3 linked regions of the Homo sapiens genome follow. The protein of the gene in region 2 interacts with the protein of the main gene of each other region in a biochemical or structural test. Each region holds a gene or a part of one and is shown on either strand. Other genes may lie near its edges.

What was found.
Region 1: the proteins of ERG (region 2) and DDX21 form a complex in vitro, tested with the Homo sapiens proteins (one large-scale study listed by BioGRID).
Region 3: the proteins of ERG (region 2) and CDC5L form a complex in vitro, tested with the Homo sapiens proteins (one large-scale study listed by BioGRID).

The regions. Positions count from the first base shown.
Region 1 is NC_000010.11:68,980,170-68,982,868, forward strand, and holds part of DDX21 (nucleolar RNA helicase 2), read left to right. Parts: intron 1-1,367; coding exon 1,368-1,412; intron 1,413-2,373; coding exon 2,374-2,643; 3' UTR 2,644-2,699.
Region 2 is NC_000021.9:38,383,291-38,387,029, forward strand, and holds part of ERG (transcriptional regulator ERG), read right to left. Parts: intron 634-3,739; coding exon 113-633; 3' UTR 1-112. UniProt on the Homo sapiens protein: Transcriptional regulator. May participate in transcriptional regulation through the recruitment of SETDB1 histone methyltransferase and subsequent modification of local chromatin structure.
Region 3 is NC_000006.12:44,422,036-44,425,774, forward strand, and holds part of CDC5L (cell division cycle 5-like protein), read left to right. Parts: intron 1-611; coding exon 612-774; intron 775-2,383; coding exon 2,384-2,548; intron 2,549-3,739.

The sequences.
Region 1 (2,699 bases), on a different chromosome or scaffold from region 2:
GCAGAGGTTGCGGTGAGCCGAGATCGCGCCATTACACTCCAGCTTGGGCAACAAGAGTGAAACTCCGTCTTAAAAAAAAAATTTTATATATATATAAATCTTTTCCTCCAAAGTAGCTTTTATGACTTTGCTTAGCCTTAAATCTTACCAGGCAATGTTAGGGGCGTCTTTATCTGTACTTCAGAGTCTTTAGGACACATGTTTATGCAGGTAAACTTTTACCTTGCTGTGTTTGCTAATGGAGAGCCTCAAGAACACTCAAAGGCAAAAACTGTTTTCTAATTACCTCTATACCCAGTGAATGCCTGGGATTATACTCTACTTCGTAAATATGTAAGCGAAGATTCCCATGAATGGCAAAATCCACCAGTAGGTGATGATACCTATGTTATGATTGGGTAAATTTTGGGGTGAAAGGGGTGTTCCTTATAAAATATTGCAGTTGAAGACAGCAGGGAGAGGAGTGCCTGTATTAGTTAACACATAGTTTGACTATATTTTTAGACGATTTCCTTGATTGGAGAGGATGGCACTTAATATTAAAGATGGTGTCCTGGCTAGGTGCCATGGCTCACACCTGTAATCTCAGTATTTTGGGAGGCTGAGCTGGGAAGATAATTCTTGAGACCAGCCTGGGTAATGTAGTGAGACCCTGTCTCTACCAAAAAAAAAAAAAAAAAAAAGCCAGATGTAGTGGCATGCACCTGTAGGAATTCAAAGTTACAGTGAGTTGTTAATTGCACCACTGCACTCCAGCCTAGGCAGTAGAGCAAGACCCTATCTTAAGAGGGAAAAAAAAAAGATGGTGTCCTGTATTATTTTTTTCATACTCTTACAGAAGGCTGAATTAAGAAAAACCAGAAAATCAACAATAGAAGATCACTTGTTTTTCTGCTTTTAATTAGGTCATTCTGAATAGCTGGCATTGCTTTTCTGATGGAAGGCAGTATATAGTTTAGACTATAGGTTTTAGAGCCATACAGACTAGATTTTAAATACTTGTGCCATTTAATAGCTGTGGGGCCTTAGACAAGTCAGCTAACCTTTCCAAGCCTGTTTGCTCAGCAATAAAATGTAGCTAATAGCCACTAGGGGGTTAGCACAGTGTAATAGCTAAGACTCTGTCTATAGTTAGAAAGTTCTAAATCATTTGGGGTTCTTTTTTTCAATGTTCCTTGTCTTTCTGCAGTGTACTTTTGGCAGCTATAATGTATTAGCTTTGGTCTAAAGTTCATCTAAAATTATACCTGGTGGTTTTTTTGCTTTATGTTTTTTGTTTTCTTTTTTTTAAAGAATACGTGGTCTTTTAAAGGGAGTATTTTTCATGTGCGTTGGTTGGATTAACTTCCATTTGCTTTGATTTCTAGGGTGTTTGCTTTGATGTACCTACCGCATCAGTAACAGAAATACAGGTATTCTTTTCCCTTAGATTTTAAAGTTAACATACCTAAATTGTAGAATGTTAATTATGAAAATAGAGAATAATAGATTGGGAAACAATAGTTCTGGTTCCTTTAGTAAGAGATAATCGATAATTAAATTTTGGAATATTCCCCCCTAACTTTTTAATTCTGATATTTTTGTAGTTGAACCCACCTGGTTTCTATATTTCCTTTATACAAAGTTGTGAACGATATCCAGCTCTCCCCACCCTTTAACACTTATATATGGTATATAGATTTTGTGTGTGTGTGTGTGTGTGTGCATGTGTGTGTGTGTTTTCAGACAGAGTCTCGCTCTGTCGCCCAGGCTGGAGTGCAGTGGTGCAATCTCGGTTCACTGCTACCTCCGCCTCCCGGGTTCAAGCGATTCTCTTGCCTCAGCTTCCCAAGTAGCTGGGATTATAGGCCCATCACTACCCCCAGCTAATTTTTTGTATTTTTAGTAGAGACGGGGGTTTCGCCATGTTGGCCAGGCTGGTCTCGAACTCCTGACCGCGGGTGATCCACCCACCTCCCAAAGTGCTGGAATTACAGGCATGAGCCACCACGTCCAGCCTACAGGTTTTCATAGACATTTAAAATTGTTACATCTTTATTCAATACTGTGAGAAATGTGTGCTTAATATATTTGTTTTATTACCTTTGGCTGTAGATACCCTGTAGCAATTGAGTTGAATAAATGGTTTAATAACTTAATAAATGAAGTAGTGATGAGGGCTATTTCTCATAATGAAACTGTGTTTTCCCACACTTCAGGGACACTGGCTTTTGGACCATGATGGGTGGCCAGTGTTATTTTTGACCAGTGACTTGTTAAGCACTTATGTTATCACCTTTTCTTTGAAGAAGTGGCAAATATTTTGTTTTTCTCATGCTTTTTAAAAATTGAATACTAATTAAAGCACACAAAAACAAAACATTCTCTCAACAGGAGAAATGGCATGATTCACGACGCTGGCAGCTCTCTGTGGCCACAGAGCAACCAGAACTGGAAGGACCACGGGAAGGATATGGAGGCTTCAGGGGACAGCGGGAAGGCAGTCGAGGCTTCAGGGGACAGCGGGACGGAAACAGAAGATTCAGAGGACAGCGGGAAGGCAGTAGAGGCCCGAGAGGACAGCGATCAGGAGGTGGCAACAAAAGTAACAGATCCCAAAACAAAGGCCAGAAGCGGAGTTTCAGTAAAGCATTTGGTCAATAATTAGAAATAGAAGATTTATATAGCAAAAAGAGAATGATGTTTGGCAATATAGAACT
Region 2 (3,739 bases):
CAGTAAAGCTTTTTTCATTCCTCTTGAGGCACTTTTGATTCATGTTCTCCGATAGAGTTTGTGGCGATGGGCTGGTGAATGCACGCTGATGGGAAAAGCCTCCGCCAGGTCTTTAGTAGTAAGTGCCCAGATGAGAAGGCATATGGCTGGTGGGGAGCCTAGTGTTGGGGTATATACCCCCAGTTGGTGAATTCCAGTATGGGTTTGGGGCAGCAAAAAAACTGGAAGATGTCACGGGGAGGGCTGGAGGGTGGGGCGCCACAAAGTTCATCTTCTGTGGGTGGGCGTGATAGGAGCCCATGTACGGGAGGTCTGAGGGGTACTTGTACAGAGATGACTCCGGGGGGTGGGGCTGGAGGGCCTGGGCGATCCCGTGGAAGTCGAACTTGTAGGCGTAGCGCTTCCCATGGACCTTGGTCATGATGTTCTTGTCATAGTAGTAACGGAGGGCGCGGCTGAGCTTATCGTAGTTCATGTTGGGTTTGCTCTTCCGCTCTCCCCAGCGCCGGGCCACCTCGTCGGGATCCGTCATCTTGAACTCCCCGTTGGTGCCTTCCCAGGTGATGCAGCTGGAGTTGGAGCTGTCCGACAGGAGCTCCAGGAGGAACTGCCAAAGCTGGATCTGGCCACTGCCTAATGAGGTCAGGAGAGGAAGGAAAACTCCAGTGAGCACAGGTTCCAGGGGAAAGAGGCTCTCTGTGATGACGGAAGGAGGTGCTATTGGTGTGCCGCCCACATTCCCTTCACCAGGCCTGTCCGTCCATCCCTCAGCTGCAGGGGTGCGGACTGCTCTCGTTCCATGGCCACCCACTTCTCCAGAGAACTGCCCTTGCCTGAACAGAGCCGCCGCCTCGCCCACCCCCAGGTATCCCACAGCTGGGTGGACTGAACGGGGTACCACGGGCCGGCCCCCTTGCCTCAAGGAAAGACCAACTCCATGACGCTATTCAGGCTTCAGGGCTCCCGTGGGATTGGGCTGAAACAGCGTCCAGCTGCAAGGAGGCTTGGAGGAGGCCAGAAACTTCCTTAGCGCTGCCCCTGCAGCACTTCCCATTCTCTCTCTCCTGAGAACATGCCGTTAATCAGTCACCTGCACAAGCAGGCTTACCCCAAGCTCTGCATCAAGGGAACCCGACCTAGGACGATGATCTAACAGATTCAAGACCTAGATGGAATGCAGCGAATTCATATGGGGCAAAGTTCAGGCTGCTTCCATCCATTTCTGACGTCCTTAAAAGAACAGCCAGATCAACCTGGTGTTTAGGGGATGAAAGAGCTATATATTTTTTTTTCCTATTTTGTGAAGCACAAAGTACTGTTATGTGGATGGCAATAATGACTTAATGCCATTTATATTGGCTAGGTCAAGTAAGATAATAAAAGTTAGATTTAGGAAATGAACTTCTAAAAGTTTATGGAAAAAAATCGAGAATGGAAGTAAACACCATTATTTCTAACATAACATTTTGCTGGCGCTCAGAAAGCAATTCTGTGAAAACTTTTCCTAGAACAGAATTAACCCACTCAAAATGAGGAAGTTTAGGAAAAAAAAAAAAAAAGCTGGCTCTTTTTCAAACCAGATCACCCAGTTCCAGTATTTGGGCAAGCGCATCGTAACGGAAACCAGTGCCTTGCCTGTGTGCTGCAACGCCAATTGTGTTAAGCAGCATTTCCAGAAGAAAAACCCCAACAATGAGTGATTGCAAGTCCCCTTGGGAAGCTGAATGAGACTCTTCCTTTGTCAAAGAGATCACATTTAGCTGGGTGGACAAAGTCAGAATTTTCTTGATTTCATTGAAATCATACAGATACAGCTTTGTTTTATGAAATTCAAAGAAAAATCTAGGCACATCATTCTAGCTGCTATGTTACAATACTTGAAGATAGTTTATGGCTCCCTAGAAGACAGCAGCATGTAAATATTGACAGCAGTATCCGTACCAAGAGAAGCTAAGCTGTGCTGAACATATTTCAGAAGCTTAAGAACAGATGGGAGGTGGGTCTTTCCTCCCAAATTCCAGTTACAGCACTGCCTTAGACTTATTACCAAAAGATTACCTTTTATTATAGTGTAAGTAATATCAATCGATGTGATAAAATGATTAAAGTAACTTTAACTGACATCTACTCAGGGAAGTAATATACTGTAAAAATCAATTTTACGTTCATTTTCTTCTAAATCCTCGCTAGCCTCCTGTACATATCACCCAACTTATAAACTCTGCTTTGCATGTTGGCTACATGGACATGGATATTTTTGTGAATTTATCCATACAATAGCACTGTGAGAAAGGTCAGCTTTTTCTGAATCTATGCTGGAAAGTGCTCATTTTCAGTCTAGCAACACATTTGAAATGTATTAACAGCTTGTAGCTCATTGAAGTGGAAGCCTTTGCTTTTTCAGAACCACATATACAAACTGTTCCCAATCAAGTTTTGTTGCCTCCAACATTTTATTAATATGCATTTAGAAAATACAAAGAATGGTATGAGAAAACCATATGGTCTTAGTATATATATTGTAACCAAAAAATTACAACTTGAAAAAATTCCGTATATGACCTGGGAATAGGAAAAGGCATGGATTTTTGATTTAACAGTCTAACAGATGCTTCAATATAAACACATACGGTTGTTTGAAAATAAATATTCAGCGTCAACTTTCTCCCATAGAGAAAGCAACTCCACAGACCTGCCGAAATCACACTTGGAATCTACTCAAACCTTGGCATTGCCTCTTAGCAATTTGTCCCTCACCCATTTCTCTTATAAACGTGTGTAGGACAGAATCAGTGGACAAAAGTGATCTCATGTCTCTCCTATTTCTGAAGAGTTAGAAAGCAGGGGACCTAAATTTGTGGCAGCAAACTCTATGCCCAAAGGATGGATGAGCTAATTTCTCACTTGACTATTTTACCCAGTAGCCATAAAGACATAGGGCTCAGGACTGTGAGAATTTCAAGGGAGGGTCTATAGAAATAAGAGAACTGTAAGCAAAATTCATCAGCTTTCAAACCTTGAAAGAAACCTGGAAATGCAAAATCAATGAATGTTTAAGTAAATGGTAGAAAGAGTAACATCATGTCAAACTCATTAATTGTTAAATTTAATATTTGTAACAAAATTCGCTGCATTTTGCAGTGTGTAGAACAAAATTTCTCACTGCAAGAATTCTCAAAAATGAACAATGGTTGTTAAAAAATTGTCAGTGGTAAAGGAATTATTCTCAGTCATAAAATTTTAAGAGCAATTTTTAAATTCTTATTTTACTTCCAAAACAATAACATTTAATGTGTGACGAGGTGCATTTTAGAATATAGAATAGAGATTTCCAAACAAGAATGCTTAGGGTTTAGGAAAGCCTAAAAGTGGCTTGGGTCACTCATGGGCCAAACCAGGATTTACAAAGAGAAGTTCTTGAAAGACAAGAGCTTTCATTGAGTAGCATCACCACCTCTACCTTAGGACTCACCTTTCTTGGGTAAACCCTTCAGATCTATTTTTTTTTTTTACTCTCTCTTAATAACATCCTTGCGATGTCAGTAAGGAGGAACTAATTTTTTCTTAGGGTAATTACCAAAATAAAACATATTTGGAGGTAAAAAACAGTGGCAAGCAGCATTGTCCACCTACAGAGAACCCTGTGGGTGAAAGGGAGCGGCTGTGGCTTTTAAGAAGACAGAGGCACTCCTTTAATTTTACAGAGGAAAGTAATCTCCTAATATTGTTAAAAGAAAGG
Region 3 (3,739 bases), on a different chromosome or scaffold from region 2:
AAAGACTTTGAATAATTAAAATATAGGTTGCTGCAAAATCTGTGGATCTTATTCCTAGGAGAATCTCTTAGGCCTCACTCAGGAACTTACTCATGTTTAGATGTGATTTCAAAAGTGTGGTGTTTGGTTTCCAAACAAAATGTAAAAGGAGGAACTATTTAATAAAGTGTGTACATTTGTAATAATGACAGTGATAGTGATGTGAGAACCAACAGCTTGATAGGGAGGGAGGAGACAAATATACACAAAACTCAAAGAGTCATCTGGGGTCATTGAGTGTGGTGGCCCACCTCCCTGCCCACTGCATGTTCTTAGTCGCCCTAATGTGCCAAGAAAAGGTTGAAATAATGTTTAGTGGACGTAGTTTAGGAAGGCAAGAAAATATCAAATGTAGTGATTATTGTAAGTCAGTAAAATAAAAATACCATGCTAGCTAGACCAAACATTGATTTTAACCTAGAGATCCTAACAAAACCAGCTGGACAGAATTTTGAAATCTTTATTCTTTTTTTTTTCTATATTTCCTGTGAAATAATTTATGTGAAAAACATTTGAAAGCACAATCCAAATGTAAGTGGCACTTCTGTTAATTGGGATTCCTGTCTTTCTAGGACTCCTTCTAATGGAGCTGAAGGGCTGACTCCCCGGAGTGGAACAACTCCCAAACCAGTTATTAACTCTACTCCGGGTAGAACTCCTCTTCGAGACAAGTTAAACATTAATCCCGAGGATGGAATGGCAGACTATAGTGATCCCTCTTACGTGAAGCAGATGGTAAATGTCAATTCCCTTTTAATACTCTTAAATTTTTTTTTAATATCTCATGGATGCCAAATTAAAATTTCTCCTGTTAGTGCATATCACATATACCTTAAGAATCTATACACCTGTGGATGCCAGAAAAAGAATTATTTGTAAGACTTGATGAAAGGGAATATTTTGGGCTCAAAACCCACCTTTCTTTATGCTTACTAGGTTTGTGAATATTGATGTTCGTTGTTGATTTCACTGAAGTTTTCTTTAGCAAGCTGAGGTAGAAAGCTAACTGTAAAAAGTTAAGTTTTGCTTCTGCCCGTGTTACTGCGTTTATTACTTTGCTATTGGGCCTTATTATCTAATGCCACAGAAATCATTGTGAAATTAAAAAAAAAACTTCTAATGATACTGGCTTGTCTTCAGTTTAAAATTAATTCTAACCTCATGTATATATTTGGTTGATTTATATATGTTTTTTAAAGTTCAAATTGATATCAACTAAAGCCAACTCTGAATGGATACATAAGAATTAAATAGATTAAGAACCTCATGCATGCAGAGCATGCATTTGGACATTTGAGGGGATCTAAAGTTGAATAAAGATGTCCTTTGTCCTAAGGAAATTTATATTCTGGGGAGATTGACAGTACTAAACTAAGTCCAAAAATAATTGCAATATCAGAACAGAATAAGCCCTTTGAGTAAAACCAGTGTGCTTAGGGTAGTTAAAGAAGGGAATAGTCACATTTGTTGGGTAACAGGAAAGCCTTATTAGAGGAGCTATGTTCTGAAGGAGGGTGGGGGCTGTCTCAGATGGAGACTACAATATGAGTAAGCATGGAGGATGTTTTAGATATAGCAACTCATCTGTTCCTCACACCTGGTACATGTAAGCACTGAGGATGGATGGGAAAACTCTGGGTACCAGGAGGCTTTTTTGGGAACCAGGACTCTACTTTCTTTCTTCTGCATGGGATTTAGTATTTCCATTAAAAATAAACACATACATACAAATTCAAGTATCTTTTAGAGTGGATTTTATTAGTCCAAGGACAAACTAACTTTTGAACCTGTTCTTTTCATTTGCTGTTAACTTTCGGTGTCAGAAATGTGTTCCCTCAAAGTGGTCTTTTTTTCTGCCCTGGCCTCAGACCTCCTGTTGGAATATCCCAGAGTATCTTCAGTGATCACAAGTGAAAGTTTTTGGTTGGTCTTAATGTTGGGAAGAAGGGGGGATAGAAAATAAACATAAGACTTGTCTTAGCTCTGAAGTCAGGATTATTTTTCTAGAATTAATATTAGGCTGATTTTTTTTGAGACTTTTTTTCTCTTTCTGTAATTTTTAATTTTTGTGGATACATAGTAGGTGTGTATATTTATGGGGTACATGAGATATCTTGATACAGGCATGCATGTGTAATAATCATATCGTGGAAAATGGGGTATTCATCCCCTCAAGCATTTAACCTTTGTGTTTGAAACCATCCAATTATTCTTAGTTATTTTAAAATGTACAGTTATTTTGACTAGAGTCACCCTGTTGTGCTATCAATTTTTAAGAGACTCATAAAATACTGGTGGAATGTTTAATATGCATGAATTGAGAAGGACCACTTCTTTTCTACAGGAAAGAGAATCCCGAGAACATCTCCGTTTAGGGTTGTTGGGCCTTCCTGCCCCTAAGAATGATTTTGAAATTGTTCTACCAGAAAATGCCGAGAAGGAGCTGGAAGAACGTGAAATAGATGATACTTACATTGAAGATGCTGCTGATGTGGATGCTCGAAAGCAGGTGGGTAACTGTACTGAAAGAAGCGTGAGTTTGGCTGAATGTGTCAGTAGGCTGGAAGAATGAAGAATAGCCATTAAATGTCCCAAGATCTCTACCTAGTCCTTTTTAATATTGAAAAAACTTCTAAAGTAAATAACTTATGTCATTAATAATGTATCCTCACATAATTAACATACTCACAATATTTTGATGAGCATTCTTAAAAATATATATATGGAAATTTAAATACATTCTGTCAAATTCATTATGCTTCTCTAAAATACACATAGGTAGTCTTTTAGACATTGCTTCAATCTAGCAAAGAAAAGATGTTATTGGTTAGTCTTAAAAACAAATACATCTTGGTTCCTGGGTGGTGCGATGTACGAGCCTGTAGTCTCAGCTGCTCGAGAGGCTGAGGTGGGAGGATTCTTTGGGCCCAGGAGTTTGAATCCAGTCCGGGGAACATAGTAAGACCTCTATCTAAACTGGAGTTGGAAATTTAGATAGAGTGTGTCAAAATAATATTAGTAACACTTTGTACTAATATATCTTATACGTAATTACTTTCTCATTTGCACGTAACAGCACAGTGATATAAATAGGATCGGTATTACAGGTTGAACATTGCTAATCCAAAAATCCAACACCTGAAATGCTCCAAAATTCAAAACTTTTTGAGTGCCGACATGAAGCTCAAAAGAAATGCTCATTGAAGCTTTTTGGATTAGAGTTAGTATAATGCAGATGTTCCAGAATCTGAAAAAATCAGAAATCCAAGATACTCTGGGCCCAGATATTTCTAGTAAGGAATACTCAACAAGCTCAGATGAATTGAGGTCTCATGGTCTCAACTTTCTCAGGTCTCATGGTGGGTAAGTGGTGAATCCTAAACTAGAACTGATATTTTATGACCCCTTTCAGTAGCTGCAGTCCATTGCTGGATGATTTTAGGGACCTTGAATCTCAGGGGATTGGAGTGAGAATGACATCAGTGGAAACAATATTTTAGAGGGGACCCATGTAAATGTGCTTTTCAGTGGGGAACAGAGGATGATACTTTTTGTGTTTAGTTCTCAGCTACTTTGAGTTACATTTACTCCTTCAGAAATGGCATGAAATTTTAATGTGTTATCCCACATTATTCATAAGAATCAGGAAACAATACATTTTTTGGCTGGCTTTTTGAGTTAAAAGTCAGTAATTTTGGAG